2 separate regions of the Homo sapiens genome follow, and region 2 is linked to region 1. The links come from fine-mapping of genetic effects on gene expression. A gene starts in region 1. The other region holds a variant in brackets. All regions are shown on one strand. Distances are from middle to middle. Region 1 holds the start of DPP10-AS1 (DPP10 antisense RNA 1). Region 2 overlaps DPP10 (dipeptidyl peptidase like 10).

Evidence for each region. PIP is the estimated chance that this variant, and not a neighbour inherited with it, causes the effect.
Region 2: its variant is fine-mapped to the expression of DPP10-AS1 in esophagus muscle (GTEx, PIP 0.90).

What each region holds. Positions count from the first base shown.
Region 1 is chr2:115,157,572-115,165,571 of GRCh38, reverse strand. It overlaps DPP10-AS1 (DPP10 antisense RNA 1), which reads left to right and starts at 4,229. Exons shown (of 3, transcript NR_036580.1): 1 at 4,229-4,468. The region is part of intron 1 of DPP10 (dipeptidyl peptidase like 10); the gene reads right to left.
Region 2 is chr2:114,773,727-114,781,726 of GRCh38, reverse strand. The region is part of intron 1 of DPP10 (dipeptidyl peptidase like 10); the gene reads right to left. Among named protein-coding and RNA genes, the nearest start is that of DPP10-AS3, 56 kb to the left of the region's middle. The variant G/A (reference allele first, on the strand shown) is at 4,374.

The DNA of each region.
Region 1 (8,000 bases):
CTATCTTGTTCTTTTATATTATTTAGATCAGTAGCGTGATATTAACTAAAATTAGCAGAGCTGTGATTTACTTGTATAGTTGAAGCTTTAAACAAATTATTCATTTGTTTTATATTCAAGGTAAATTTGTGCACATGTGCACACATACACATATAATTTGCAATTATTTTCATTCTTACAATAGAAATATGTTGTATCATGATTGTATAGAAGTTAAAAGTTGAGGCTTCAGACCTCCATGAGTTCCTGGCTAAGTCTCACTTCCACAATAACTTCCTTAATCCTCTGTATTCTCATCTCTAAAATAGGAATAAAAACAGGACTCACCTCAAAAAACTGCTTTGAGAATCAAATAGAAAAATACATTCAAGAAATGTTACTTTATGAACCCTAAGAATAGTACTCTGCCTGTGGCAAGCATTCAGGAAGTGATTTTTAAAAATAATAATAAATTACAATTAGCCACTAGAGTTCTTAGCTCTTTCAATGTTAATTGAGATATTGATCATGTTAAGAAATGATTGTGTCTAGTCATGTCAAGGCATTTGTTTTTAGATATTTTGTAAATGTGGAGTGTTGTGAAAGCAACAAAAATAACTGTCATAAATATTTTGTAATCAAAGAATCTTTAAAAGAAAGATTACTAAGATGATAAAAATATTTCCAATGATTCAGAATATTCATAAAATACACGGTCCCTACACGGTCCCTCCTATTCTTGTTGTCACCATTCTCTAGGGAGGGAGGGCATGTCCTCTTGTCATGGCACCCTGTGCCAGAGGACACTAACAGATCAAATAAAAGAGGAAGGTTGAGCCCTCTACAGGACTGTAACTGTAACCAAATTATATGGTTCATAACCATTTTCAGTTACAGGAAGGATTATGGTCTTCCACTGTGCTATAAGTGGAAATAGGTGTTTGATGGCCTCAGGACAAGGCATCTTTGAGGTTTCATAAAAATCTTCACCATAGAAACTAGAAGACATTCTTGGAAACATGCAATAGCTTAAATCATTCAAAATCAATGCATAGTGATTGATTTGTTGGAACATGTGCCCTATTTAACCACTAGGTAAAATTTCATAAAGGTACATTTTAATTTAAATTTATGAATCTTTTTTATGAAATATTATAGAAAACACACAACTAATCACATCTTTATGAAGCTATATTATATCTAGTATTGCACGAGAGTTGTGTGGCAATTGCAGAATTAAACCATAATGACTAATATGGCTAATAAAAGCTTAGTAGTCTTACGGAAAGTAGTTTAAGCTGTCACAAAAATCATTCACATTCTTTTTCCATCGTTTCATATGTCAAGCTTTGAACAAAAATATGCTAGATATGAGTATTTCCTGGGAGTGCTTGAAACACCCTCACTGCGAGGTGCCATGTGTATATTTCAGTTGACTTTCTTTGTAAAATCAATCTATTAGAACACATGCATAAGATTCATAAAACTGACATTTTCAAATCATGTCAATACTCAGAAAGGCACTTAAAATACTCTATTAAAACAAGAGTTCTGCAAAGTAGCCACTCCCTGAATATTTGAAGTGGCTATTAAAAAATGCACACTAACAAGAAAAATGGATTCGAGCTTGCACCTATCTCTTCATATGAATTTTAAGTACCAGATTAATCCTGACAAGGGGATTTGTTGTGTATAGACAGCGTGTCCACTATCTACACATACATTTTCAGCTCCTGTGTGCTCTGCTCTGCTCTGCTTCTGCATCCCACTTCCACCATCACTGAACTGTTTGCAGCGCCTCAAGTAACCAGCTGGTGTCACAGGTTAGTGAGCAAAGATTTCATGTGGGGACTCTCACCTGGCTAATCTTTCTTACTGGTAGCATCATTCCCAGAGCAGTAGAGAGGCTCGGCGGCTTGTTAATGAAATTTAAGGGCTGTCAGCCTGAAAGAGGATGTTCAATCCATGTTCCCGTTCTGAAATTATTTTTCTATATCTGCTAACCAATGTTTACATTCTGATGTGTGCTGGGGATTAGGAGGAAGGGGTATAAAAGGAAGGAACGTATGATGTTTTAATATTTTCATACTTATCTCAGAGTATGGATCAAACAGGATCGTTTAAGAAAACAAATGCTTTGTAAGAACTGCCAACATTCAACCCCCTCCCACTAATAAACGAGAAGGGAGCTGTAAGTCATTGAGTAATCCCCACCACCTGTGTGAAACACATGTGAGAGAAAAGAGAAGGGGAGGGAAGAGGAGAAAAGAAACCGCAAGCCAGGAGAGATGACCAAGTCTGCAATATTAATAACAGCATCGCTGGCATGGCCTCCTGTGTCTCGCCACCACTCCTGGGCGATTTGGACAGCTCCCCTTAAGAGGCTCTTCAGTGCTTAGAATACGCGAAAAGCCGAGTCGCTGCTGGAGCCTAGCCGCGTGCGCTCCCTCTATCCCACGCTAGCAATAAGCTGGGAGGGTGTCCGCCTCCAGCAGCCTTCGCAGCGCACTCCGAACAAAGATCCCCAGTCCTCCTACCCCAGCGCTTGGGTCCCGCGGGTCCACAGTTAATCCCTGACCTAAGTGCAGCTCTCTCTGCCCGGAGTTCCTAATTGATGCAAACGTGAGCGCACCTGCACCCGGCTCAGCGCAGCCTCCCTCCTCCTCCTCCTCCTCCTCGCCAGGGTGTCTCGGCGCTCCCGACCCTCCAACTTTGGAAAAAGAGCGACACCGAAGTCCCAAATCACCCCAGATCAGGGACAGAGACGAGATGGGGATCCACGACGGTACGGTTATGCTACAGATTTCTAAAGACCAAAACAAAAAGGGGTTGGCGGGTGTAGACGGACGGGAAAGAGACAGGAATAACCCTCAGCCCACGCAGGGCACCTCATCTGTGCAGACGCGACACATCCAAACCCAACACATCACCAAAGCCAGCGCCTTCCCGGCTCCACTTAATCGTTAATGCCTCGCCGCTCCCCAAGCTCCGTTCCGCTCAGCAGACTACGGATGTCTGGGACACTCTTCCCCCATCCCCACCTCACAAACACACACCCGTCTCCTCAAAAGAAACAAGAAAGCAGAGGGAAAACCCCGTCCGCCTAAAGGTCATTCGCCTGCTCGGGTCGCTTTGGCCAGCGAGCGCCCCGGCTATAGGAGGACGGGGCTCGAACCCGGTGAGCGGCCGTCAGGAGCGCAGCAGATTTCTTCAGCGTGCGTTAATGGGGAACCAAGAGGCCCCATTCCTTGGTCCCGGCCGCCTCTCCCTCCCTCGGTGGGCCGCCCGCCGGGGTTCCCCGGGGCACCTTCAGCCTTTACCTCTCTGCCCCCTTCCCCGCGGCTCTCCACCTTGCGCATCCTCTCGCCGGGCCCCGGAGCGCACGCAGAGGCTCTAACTTCCCGCAGAGTCCGTGGAGAAGCAGGAGAGCCTGGAACTGGGGCGGGGCGGGGGAGGGTGAGAAGAGGGAGGCGCGGGAGCCCAGCCTGGGAAGCGGGAGGCGGGCGGAGCGCGCACTGGAGCCACCCCTCCCGGGAGGGCCTGGCCGCGGCTGCCGACTCTCACCTGGTCCGCCGGCTGCGCCTGGCTCGCCCTGGCCCCCGGGGTGGGCTGCGGCTCCTGCTTCGCGGCCGTCATCGCCGGCGGCCCGCGCTGGCGCTCGCTTCCTCGCGGGCGCTTCAGACTCGGGGACCGTCACTTGGCAGCGTTCGCAGGTCACGGGCGCCCGTCGCTCCCGGAATCGGCGGAAGGGACGGGGTGGGGGGAGCGGAGGGGCGGGGAGGGGAAGAAGAGCGGCACCGGGCGGGCTCCCCGTCGTAGGGTCCCTCCCTCGGCCACCGCAGACCCTCTGACTCCCCGCTCTCCCCGCCCCCCGCCACCCAAAGCGCAGCGAGCCGCGGCGGCGAGGCGAGACCAAGCGGCAAGTTAGTGCAGCGGCGAGCGGCGGGGCCCCGGCCCCTGACCGAGCTGCGGCGACGCCTCGTGCCTTCTTCCCGCAGTCCGCGCCCCCCACCGCCCGCCCCCGGGGGCTCCCCGCGCGGTGCTCAGCGCGCCAGGTGGAGCAGCCGGGCGCCGCGCTCCGGCCTCTCTTCGGCAACCGCAGCCGGGGGGGGGGAGAGCCCGGAGCGGCGCGAGAGCCCCCAACCCGCGCGCCCACGGCCGCCGGCTTCCGCGGTTACCCCGCCCCCCGCAGGCTTCCGCTAAAACCCGGAGAAGCGGAGCGCGCCCGTGCGAAGCACTGGGTGGCTCCAGCTCCGCCACTGCGCGCGCTCCAGCGCCCCAGAAGGCAGGGGGCAGCCCGGGGACCGGGGTCCCGGAGCCCCGTGGGAGGCGGGCAACACCTGTCGGGACCCGAGGGCGTGTCTGAGATTGTGGCCTGAGGTGCTGCGCCTTCCGATCCGGGGCAGCGGGCGTCCTGTAGCTGCGCCTTCCGAATCCAGCCCAGATTCTCCTACCAGCTGCTTGGGTCACGTCGGTGGAACTCCTAAAGGTCGGTTAAAAACCATAAGAACTGTAATGATGATAAGACTCTGATACTCATTTCTTTTTTCTTTTTCTTTCTTCCTGGACACGTGTAGGAAAACCTTCAAATCTTAAGTCCTCCCAGCCTTTCCTTTCTTCAACACAACCCTCTCCCATTCAAAGTAGGTTTACCGAGCACCTACCACGTGCCAAACACACTGTGAGGCTCAGAGAGAGGGTCGCAGGGGAGAGAAACTAAACAACACGGCAAACCTACCAAATCCCCTGGCTGCAGGGAGCTTACGTTGTGTGGGAATTGGGAGCCCGGAGCCTGGATACAAATCAATGAGTCAATGTAGCTCTTAGGAAGTTGAATTACCGCGGATAGACAAAGTCCACAGTTCATCCAGATGCACTAGTGCACGTGGCTTTCCCTAGGGCGCCTAAAGCCTGTGGACCACAAACAGCCTCCAAGTCTCAGGCACAGGTTGTGGAAGATTGCTTACCGGAGAAATGGCAGGAGTGAGTTGAATATTTAGGTGTTCATGTATTCAGCACAAGACAGTTCCAGCAGAGAGGACAGAGAATATGGGGCAGTGGGGTGGCAGTGAGTTGGGCTTTATTGGCTAAGGACTGGCTCCCTGCTCTGAGCCACTCAGTCCATTAATTAGTCACTTCTTAACTGAAAGACTTTTGTAGAATGGTAGGAGCTGTCCTCTTGCCTTAGTAGTTTCTAAAACACGAATTATAATGTTGTCCTAAATATTAATTGTAACGATACTTCCTATAAAGTATGTATTTTAAAATAAATATATCAGTAATCACCAGCAGAAAGATAGAATTAGAGGTGAGTGGAGATCTTGTTTTTCAAAAATATGTATTCCAGTGCATATTGTGAAAGACCTATTTATTCTGTTTCAGGAGAAATAACTTTTTGCTAGGAATAACTTTGCAAGTTGCAAAAGCATAAAGCAAATATATATTTTTAATGAAACATTAGTGTAATAGCTATTGGGCAGCTTATCCAGTAATTATGACAATATAGATATTCCCTCACATGTAATTCTTTTGGAGGGAGGGCATCTGCATTATTCAGAAAATGTTCGCATTTTTATATTTTGCTCTTCTGTTGATTATTTGAGTATATTCATCCTTTCATTGTGTTTCCATTTCGGACAATCTGCTTGAGTTGAAGGAATTTACTTTATTACAGAGATATCTGTCACACAGGATAAGTACATGCTGGAGGGAGATATCCTTTTATATAAGATTACTTATTTGATTGAGTTCAACTGTTGAATTTGCATCTGTGTTCTGAATTCAGTATAAAATCCACTTCATTACAAATAAAGACAAACATTATTATATGTTTCATGTATTGTGGGGGTCTGTGTGTGTATGTGTGCGTGAATTTTTTTATTTATAAAATGCTTCTTTGATTTAAGTATTTGTCCTTGGGGATGGGTTGTTATTTTGTCAAGCTAAGAACATTTTTAGCTGTTGAGATCTGGGTTAAGGGCACTGATTAAAACTTAATCACATGTAAACGGATTTTCCCAATTTAAACACTGTTTTTATTTTTTTAATGTATTGCACTTGAATTACAGTGTAAGATGTTCTACTTCATTTTCAACTTAATTTCTTACTGAAGAAAAAATTCTAACGTCCAAACAAGAAATGTTGGAATACCTTACACCTTAGAAGGGAGTATTTGCAGTTCTGTTTTGTATGGTTTCTAATGATGTTATTTTTAAAGAAACATTCTCCTGCCTCAGCCTCCCAAGTAGCTGGGACTACAGGCGCGCGCCACCACACCAAGCTAATTTTTTGCATTTTTAGTGGAGACGGGGTTTCACCGTGTTAGCCGGCATTGTCTCGATCTCCTGACCTAGTTATCCGCCCACCCCGGCCTCCCAGAGTGCTGGGATTACAGACATGAGCCACCATGCCATGCCACTTCCACCTTTTTACCTGGTAAAATTAAAATGTTTAGACCAGGTGCCCATTAAGATATTCTCATTCTCTAAGTTTTTGTGATGATATGTTGATGTTATAAATCAAATGCCTATCTTCTGAATGAAAAATTATTTGTATATGTTTAAATTTTAGTGGGAGAGTCAATTAAGTACTTAGAAATTAAAAAAAAAAAACTCAATAGATAAGTTAATTACCTTGCAAAAGGCCCTTACCATCCACCATATTTTCCAGTGCTCTCTAGTTTTACATGCACATAGTCACAATTTTGTCTTGATAATGTTTAAATCTGAAATTTAAAATGTATTTACAAAGCATAACTTCTGAATACAAAAATCTATTTAAAGAGAGTTTTTTAAAAAAAAGATTCACAGAGTATTTTGAATACTTTTTCATGTATTATCTTTGATCAGCTAATTCATGGACAAGCATACATTTTATAACATTCATATAACAGTAAAGGAAGTTTTTCTACACTTTTCATGGGAAGAAATCAGACTCTCATAACTGAAAAGGAACTGGAGAGATCACCTAGCAAAATTCCTTCTATTTTGGGTTATAAATATCTAAACTTTACAACACATGGCCATTTTATTCAGGAAGATTTCCTAGAATTCAAACTCCATCACTTCTTTCTGAAAATGGATTACCTCAAATCCTAGTTTTGGGTTCACATGTAGACAGAACTCACAATGCTGCTTTCTCAATATATTCATTTGGGTTTCTGAAGCCATTCAAAAACTTCCTCACATACAACATTGTGAATATCTACAATGTCTTTCTTTCTCTTGCTGTTTTACCCTTTAAAAACAGGAAGTCAATGCAGTACATCTCTCTTTACCTAGAAATATTAAGGTAGATAATTGAGGACGGGTTATGAAATTTAGATAATAATTGGATTAATTGAAGATTATCGTTATAGTGTTTTGGTATCTGTGGCAAAATTAGGTTGTTCTATACATACATAGGTCATCTATGCAGTATTTAATCCTCCACCTCAAATAGCAGACAAAGGACCAAAGAACCAAAATTTACTCTAAAAACAACCAAGTAAGAAATAAGGTCTAGCTAACAGCTGATATGTCAGAAAGACAAATGTCCCTTGAGATTTTCTGAAGTAGGATACCCTTTAGAGACAAACTCTTCAGTTTCAGATAAATTAGACAAGGCAAACAGTACTCCACAAGCAGCTAGTTGCTAGAAACCCTCACTGCATTTTCCTTCTCTTTGCTCCCCTTCCTGAGGTAAATCTGCAGTGTCATGTAAAGACCACCTTGATGGGGATTTCCCTAGCATTAGCCAGTCCTCTGTTGAGTGTCTATAATGAGCACAGCATCAAGAAGACAGAGTTCACGAGCTGTGTCTTCAGAGACTTGGCCTGAAATATGCCCAATTAGCTCTTTGCAGATAAAGAAATAGCTTTAGTTCATATCTTCTGCTATCATTTGGTTTCGATTTATGAATGACCTCTACTCACCTCAATCGGGTTTTGAATTCCCCAAAATGCACATCATGTCCCTGGACAGAAAACCAGTATGCTGAGCAATCCTCATAAACAAGCTACATTTTAGAAGCTCTAACCAGTA
Region 2 (8,000 bases), 380 kb after region 1:
GATCATTGTCTTTCTCAAGATGCTCCCCCAATTATATACTCATCTAGATATGCCCTGCTTCCCTTTCCCACATATGTAGGCTGTTAGGGTGAAGAGGTTCTCTACCAGGGGGCTTTTCATAGCATAAGCTCTGCTAGTTTCAGCATAACTCTTGATGGAAAAACAATATGGACTTCTGTATTACTTGCTGTGATGTTGCTATCAATGAATCTTTTCAAATGCCTGTACCATGTGTCACAAATAATGGATCTATCTGTGCCCCTCTGCAAAAGAATAATAAATAAATGAAAACATAAACAAACATTAAGCCGTGAATCCCACCATCCATGGATAACCACTTGCTGATATTTTAAACAGTGTTTGGCTTCATTCTGAAATGTTCAAGTATTTGGAGATTCACAGCTAAAAGCAACTAGCCTCTATGAGCTTTTCCAACTTTTTCTTTAAGGCAAACTGACAACAGTGATGTGATCACGAGGATTTAGAAAACCAGAACATTTTGCCTCTGAACTGTATGTGTGGAGAGATTTCACAGGTTAAATGGAAGTTCCTAGGATCTATTACATCCTCTCTACAAAATGTTATTGTGTATTTATTCATTCATTTATTTATCTTATCCAACTATTTTTGCTAACTACAAGCACATCGGACTTTGTGACAATCAAGAGCTGTACAAAAAGAGAGAGAGGGAGATGTTAAACACATTTCTCATCTTCTGAAACTTGAAGCTTATATCCTAGTAGGAAAGATATGACAAGTACATGCAAATTAAATGTCTCATTCACCATTCTATTCACAGTAACTGACAAATGATATTCAATAGAATAATCTTCCCAATCAGATTGTAATGCTCTTGACTTAAAGACTGTCTCATATTCATTCTCAACATGTGCAACATTTTCATTCATGATACTAAAGATAAAAATTCATTAATTTAACTAGGTAGCCTACTAATTTAAAATATTCTACTCATGTCAATAAATCAACCAATCAACTAGATAAACATTTAAGATATCTTAAATGCAATTTAACAAAATTTCTTTCTGATAATCATAATAATGCCCTTTAAATACCAAACAACATTTTTGAGGAATGTTGTATCTACATAAATGCAGTTGTAATTTAATAGTGTGTTATTGTAATAATAGCTATTGTAAAATTTAAATGGAATTTAGTGATAACAAATAAATAAATCTTGTTTTACTATATAAACACATTGTTCACAGCTATCTTGAACCTAAATTCCTTCCAGTACCCTAAAGAATTAAAATAATGATTCAGACTTCTGAAATTAGATTGGAACTTAGGTTGGTGCTTACTTTGACTAACTGTAAGTCTTTTAGATTTTCCAAAGAATATAAAGATCACACATGAAGGATATTTCATGAGAAAAATAAGTATGATAATTTGTCACTTGTTTTCTCAAAACCAAGCTATCCTATTATTTGATGGAGTTAGATGAGTTAGATGACAAAAATACTCTATATCATCACAACAGTTTTGTCTGCATTATCATATTTGATCCTGTGAGTAAGGCAGGGAAAATCAATCATCCCTCTTTTCCTTCCCTCCTTTCCCTCCTTTCTTTTTTGAGACGCAGTCTCGCTTTGTCACCCAGGCTGGAGTGCAGTGGTGCAATCTCGGCTCACTGCAAGCTACGCCTCCCGGGTTCACACCATTCTCCTGCCTCAGCCTCCCGAGTAGCTGGGACTACAGGCGACCACCACCACACCCGGCTTATTTTTTGTATTTTTAGTAGAGATGGGGTTTCACCATGTTAGCCAGGATGGTCTCGATCTCCTGACCTCGTGATCCGCCCGCCTTGGCCTCCCAAAGTGCTGGGATGACAGGCGTGAGCCACCGTGCTCAGCCCCTTCCCTCCTTTCTTATGTTATCCTCATGAGAAAATGTTTTTGGAATTTTTGATAAACATGATCACAGAAGCATAAATATCTAAATCCCACCTGATAAAATAGCTGTACTGGCAGCATTTCTGGGTCTATCAGGTTACTTTAGCGCAAGGTTGGGCATCCTTAACACCAGAATATTATAAAGGAGGGTTATCACAGGTCAGGGCTGGTCATGAACAGACCATGCAATCAAATGGGATGAAAGGTCAAGTTATGTTGGGATATGAAAAAGTCCTCAGCGTAAACTGATATCAGCTTAGACCATATCAAAATTAGCAGCTTGTATGTAAGAAGTCAATCATTACATTTTATAAGATATGACGGGAATAGGTCCTCTGAAAAATCAGGAGTCCTCTGCTACCCTAGATATGAGATAACTTTGATCAGAGGTGGTTTAGGACCTTGGGTAGCTCTCAGGGAGCTGGCTCTTGTTCTGTTAATAATAAAAGCCATACTGAACAAACATATACCTATGTTTATATTGATGTCTATATGCAGACAGAAAATCTCAGAAGAGTCTGGTTGCCTGTTTTTTCCTCATAGTTAGCTTAATCTTTATGAAACACAAACCTCTTCGTTCAGATGAAGAGCATTTAGTGTCCACATCCACATCCAGGAGAGAAAGCCAGGTTATTCTGTGTAGTCTGGAAGTTTCACAGGGGTATACACTGATGAGAAGGCCTGACTGCAGCAGAGGAACTCTGTCTGCTGCAACACGGGATTACTCAGGCCCCAGAGGTACCAACTCCACTGGACCAAAAATAGAGCCCAGGCATGTAAAGCTTAAGACCATGAACTCTCAAGACAGCTGCTTTCTGGCATTGAATTAACTAGGGTGCTACTAATTTTTACAGTAACCATAAAGGGGAGAATAGATTATACATTATTTTTTATAACTAACATGGGATTGTGACACCATTAAGTTGCGCTTTGTCTTTCGGTCAATTAAATTCATAATTTATTGTAATATGCTAGAACCCTATGGCAGAGGCTGGCAAGACTCATCAAATCCATTTTATCTTCCATCAGAGCATATAGGTGGACTACATTTTCTGGCTTCCTTTGCAATTAGGTGCAGTCATGCGACCGATTTTAAACCAGTAGGATTTTTCATGGAAGTGGTATATACCACTTCCAGGCCTGGTTCATGTACTTTCCTTGCAAGCTTCCATGATTTCTTTACTATTTTATCTGCCGGTCAGATTAACGGAGTCAGTGGTACACTCCAAGACTCTAGACTTTAACAAAGCCATTAGATGGATGAAGCCTGGAACTCTAAATAATTGCGTGAAAAAGAGACAACCTTCCACCCAAGCAAACTTAAGTTTACTGTAACATAAATAAGAAATAAATATTTATGTTGGTAAGTAACTAAAATGTGAAGCTATTATAGAAATTAGCCACTGTGGCTAACGTTATAGGACTAATAGATATTTTTGAATATGATACATATGATCAAATCACATTTATATGAAAGTGCAGGTCTCGGCTATGAGCCATGACACTTGAGTTTTAATAAGCCAAATGTTTTGCATATATAATATACTTTAGTAACTTGCATTTTGAAATAACCTTCTTGACCCAGAGAGTAAGACTCAGTCTATCTGTAAGTGTCATCCCTTAATATTGCTTAAAGATGATAATGATTAGGGTAATGAATGATAATGATGATGCTAATACCTATAATAACATTTCATTTATAGCCCTTCTTAGTAATGTATTTATTTAATTGTCTCACTCTTTCTTGGACATGTTTAAGATGATTGCTATTATTCCCATTTTAAAGGTCTTGAAACTGAAATCCAGAATGTCAGCTAACTAATGAAAGACACGACAAATTCAAATTTAGATCTTCAGATTATTGACCCTAAAGTCCATGCTTTACCACTACCCTACAATTATTTAAGCAGAACCTGTCATAAAATTGCGGATATGAGTCTAACTTAAAGAACAGTGAACTCTTTGACTATGTAACTTCATAGAACTTACTATAAAGCATCTTGGTTCTGCGGCTCAAAGGATTTCTGTTTAATGATGTCATTACCATATAGCCAGGACATAACACTGCATTTAAGAGATGTAAAGTAGTCATTTAAACATTTACTGCTTTGGGCTTCATATCTATTACTGATAGAAGCTTTGAGATGAGGATTTAAATACTACTTTATATTTATTTCTTAAGCTCAGCCACAAAGCATTTTCACACGAGACATTCAGCAACTCTGAAAGGGCTACTTCTTCCCAGCCATTTGCATTTGGTCAAACTTCCTTCTTTCCTTGCTGTTTATGACTGTAACAAGTGGCATAATATGAAGGACTGAAATAGGGAGGTTGCCAACTTTTCAAAACTTTTTCTGGAAGAAATATAATTTAGTAGGAATAATATATCCAAAAGTAATACTCAAAAAAGGGCCCTGAAAACCCTCTTCAGAAATGTATGTGGGTAATATATTTCTAAGGATT[G/A]TGATTTGTACAGTGCAAAATCCATGGGCAGTTCAAAAAAGTTGGACCAGGAAGAAAGGAAGCCATTTCCAGCACAAGACAGTGTTTCCTAGGCTGCAGAATTATAAGGTTTGAATGTGACTTGTTGGTCTTCCTGTACTCTTTTCTTATTCTAAGAAGAGTTTCAAAAATAAATGAGAATATGGTTATAAAAAACAATAAAATATACCCATTCTCAAAGAGTACATTTCATTTACTTCTGAATAAAAGTCTTAACATATGTAAAGCCTGTATTAACTGCTTTTAGTCCAATAATTGCAACTATACACTATATAATGTATATATTATATAGTTATGTACTACATGGTTTATAAAACATTTTCATATATCTTTTTTATTTTTGAAAAAGTATGTTTGGCAGAAATTCTTATGCCTTCTTTTTTTTAATTATGAGAACACTGATCCTTAGAAAGTCTTTTTGGCTACCATTATCTTCTCTAATAATTTGATTTCCTTTTCAAAACTCACACTGCTCAGAGAGGTGTCTCCACTCATCCCCTTTTCCAATACTCATCAATTCAATACTCATCAATTCTTATAATCTGCACTAACTTTATTTAATTTAAATCACTACAACTTGAATATGTGACTTTAAAAATTACTCTAATGTAATTTATCCAACAAATTTTTTGATCTTTTTTTAATGTAGTGTTTGTCAGCTCCCACCATAGATGACTTCAAGCTGCCAAAAATTTAACAAATGGCTCAAAAAATGTTGTACATTTAACAATATTTCTTTTGAGCCTATAAAAGCCAAATTCATCACACTACTGGCAGTGTTCACTCAGATCTAGCGCTAGCTCCTAAGGAGCTTATGGCCTGATAACGGAGATTGCATTCAGTAGAGAAAAGCTAGGAGTCTATTTTCTTTGACAAGGTCTTGGAAGCTCTGGAACCTTAGGTATGAATGTAACTGTTTTTTCCTTCTACATAAGCAGCAAAGGTCATTCAAGCAGAGGAGATAGTGTGTTCAAAGGCATGGATGCATGGAATGCCATGGCATCATTCTATATCCAATGTGCAGTGGGAAGGGCTGTCAGAAAAGAGAGTTCAGCAGGCCTCAGATCATGGAGGTTTGTTTGTGTTCTAATTGTTGTTCAATTGTTCACTCAATTGGATCAACTACATGACAACTAAGATGTATCTGCAGCTAATTTTACCTGTAACACTTTGTCTCTTTATTTTTATCTAGAGCTATATCTAAAAATCAGTGTATTTTCCCATCATATCTTCAAAACTCATTTTGTTTTTCACCATCTCTGGGAAGACATTCTTGACTTCTTCCATATTAACTCCTGCTATCTGCATCCAAGCACAGTGAACCTCCTCTGCTTCTGGGTCCTTCCCATGTGCCTCCATGAATGTATTACCAACATTGTAAGTATATTTGTTTAGATGTCTCTCTCTGTCACCCAAAGTGATAGTTCCTTGAGACGTAGGAGTGTCTTTTATTGTTTGTATTGCCAGAGGCTTGAACAGTACATGATTCATTGGAGATACTCAAGATATATTTATGCATTGTGTTGAATTAATAAGACACTTCTTGACTATAATTCAAAAGAATGAACAAAGAGTGGTGACATTCTAATTGTTGGGAATGTGAATGTTTCCTGACTCACCTTTCTGAAGCTGCTGCCATATACTAAGAAGTAATGAGTACAAAGAGTTCATGCTAACATTGCTTAGAGAATGCAAACTTTCTAGGCTTCCTCAGCCTGCTAGAACTTTCCCTCCAGCTGAGATCTACCTAGTTTAAGCCCAGTTTATACAAGATTTTGAGGAAGCTCAAAGAAGAAAGGATTTTCAGGATGCCCAGAAGTGGGACAAAAATGCTGACCCTTGAGTTGCTGTGCATGGCTTTAGTGTATTTCTGCACTTGGCAGCAATGTAAGTCTACCCCCACCAGCTATACTAACCACAAACTCCCTTTTAGAATCAGTGAAATTCAGAACTAGAAAGGGCTTTTAGACACCTACATTGGAAGATATCAACTTGAGTAGTATAACGACTTGCACTCTGGAGGTAGATTCTCCTGGGATATTGTACTTACTACTAAATCTTTCTTTGGACACTTTATGACCTTTAGCTATTAGCCTGCATCAAGTTGGGTTAACAGTAGTGACTACATTATTATTGTTAGGACTAATCAAGATTTTGCAGATATAATTCTTACCTTCTAATTGCATCTCTACCCATGCTCTTGTTGTAACACTGTATCATACAGAGTCAAGGGTGGGGACCAGGACCCAGATTGGCTGAGGTCAAATTCCATCTCTGCCACTTACTGGTTGGGTTATCTTAGATAAGTCACTTGATCTATCTGGATTTCAATTTTCTCATCGCTAAAATGTGAATAATAATAACTACCACTAAGAATTGCTTAGAGAATTATATGGTATGAAGAGTTTAAACAGGGTTCGTTCCATAATTAGTAAAGAGATAAAGTTGAAAGGCTTTGACCTAATGCTATTAGGTCAAAGACGTAACTGAATTTCATGCTTCACTTACCTCTATAAGGTTCCTGCTGTGTTTTCCTTATTCTTGTGAAGCTTTAGCCAACTAATGTTGTTGAATCATTGCTGTTGTTCATTCATTACCAATCCATTAATGCTCATCCCAGTGTAACTATAGAGTATATATATATATATACATCATTATTGATAATTATGGCAAATATAGTCATCTCTGTTTTGCAGTTAACTTCTGAACAGTGATACGCTCACAACTTTGAAACTATATTAAATATTTTATGAAAGTTTCTTACATTTTCTCCTGATTTTAAGATAGTGTTAAGGAGTAAATCTGCTTTCCTTAAAATAAAATTATTTGACTGTAACAGAGTCCCTCCAAATCTCCTACCTCATGATTCTATTTTATTCTCCAATAAGCAAGCCTGACTTAAGATTACTTTTTTTTTTGTCATAGGTCCAAATATGGCATTCTGTAACAAACGTGGTAACAAAAACCAAGCCCCAAAGACTCCACTTACTGCTGTGCATAGGTTGGTTATGGAATGTAGTGCATGAAGAGCATTTGCTTGCCTAAAAATTGTTCAGACTCACATTAGAGTGTCAATTTCATCATACATGTCTCTAAATCACTATAAAGTATGAGCTTCTTGAGGACAGAAATACTATTTATTCATCCCTGCATCCTCATCTCCTGGCACAGAATACAACCCACAGTGCATGTGTTGAATGAATACATATAAATATGTGATCGTTCTTAGCCATCAGGTTACTAGTATTCACTTTCTATTTCTATTCAAATACATATATATCAAATAAATATACATATATACATACACATACCTATATATCAAATAGAATATATACTTTTATATTTGATAAAGTTTAAAAGTTATACTTCAAAAGCTATAAATATATACTTTTTGATATCTATTTGAAATATCAAAAAGTATATATTTATTTTTTTGTTCACTAGCAGATAACTATTTAAAAAAGAAGCAATACAAAATAGAGACTGTATCTATATGAATCACTCTACAATTAATTGTATATGGATTTTAATATATTTTAGATCTAGCCTTTTTGTGGTTACTTTCAAGGGACCTTAGTAAGTTCAGAT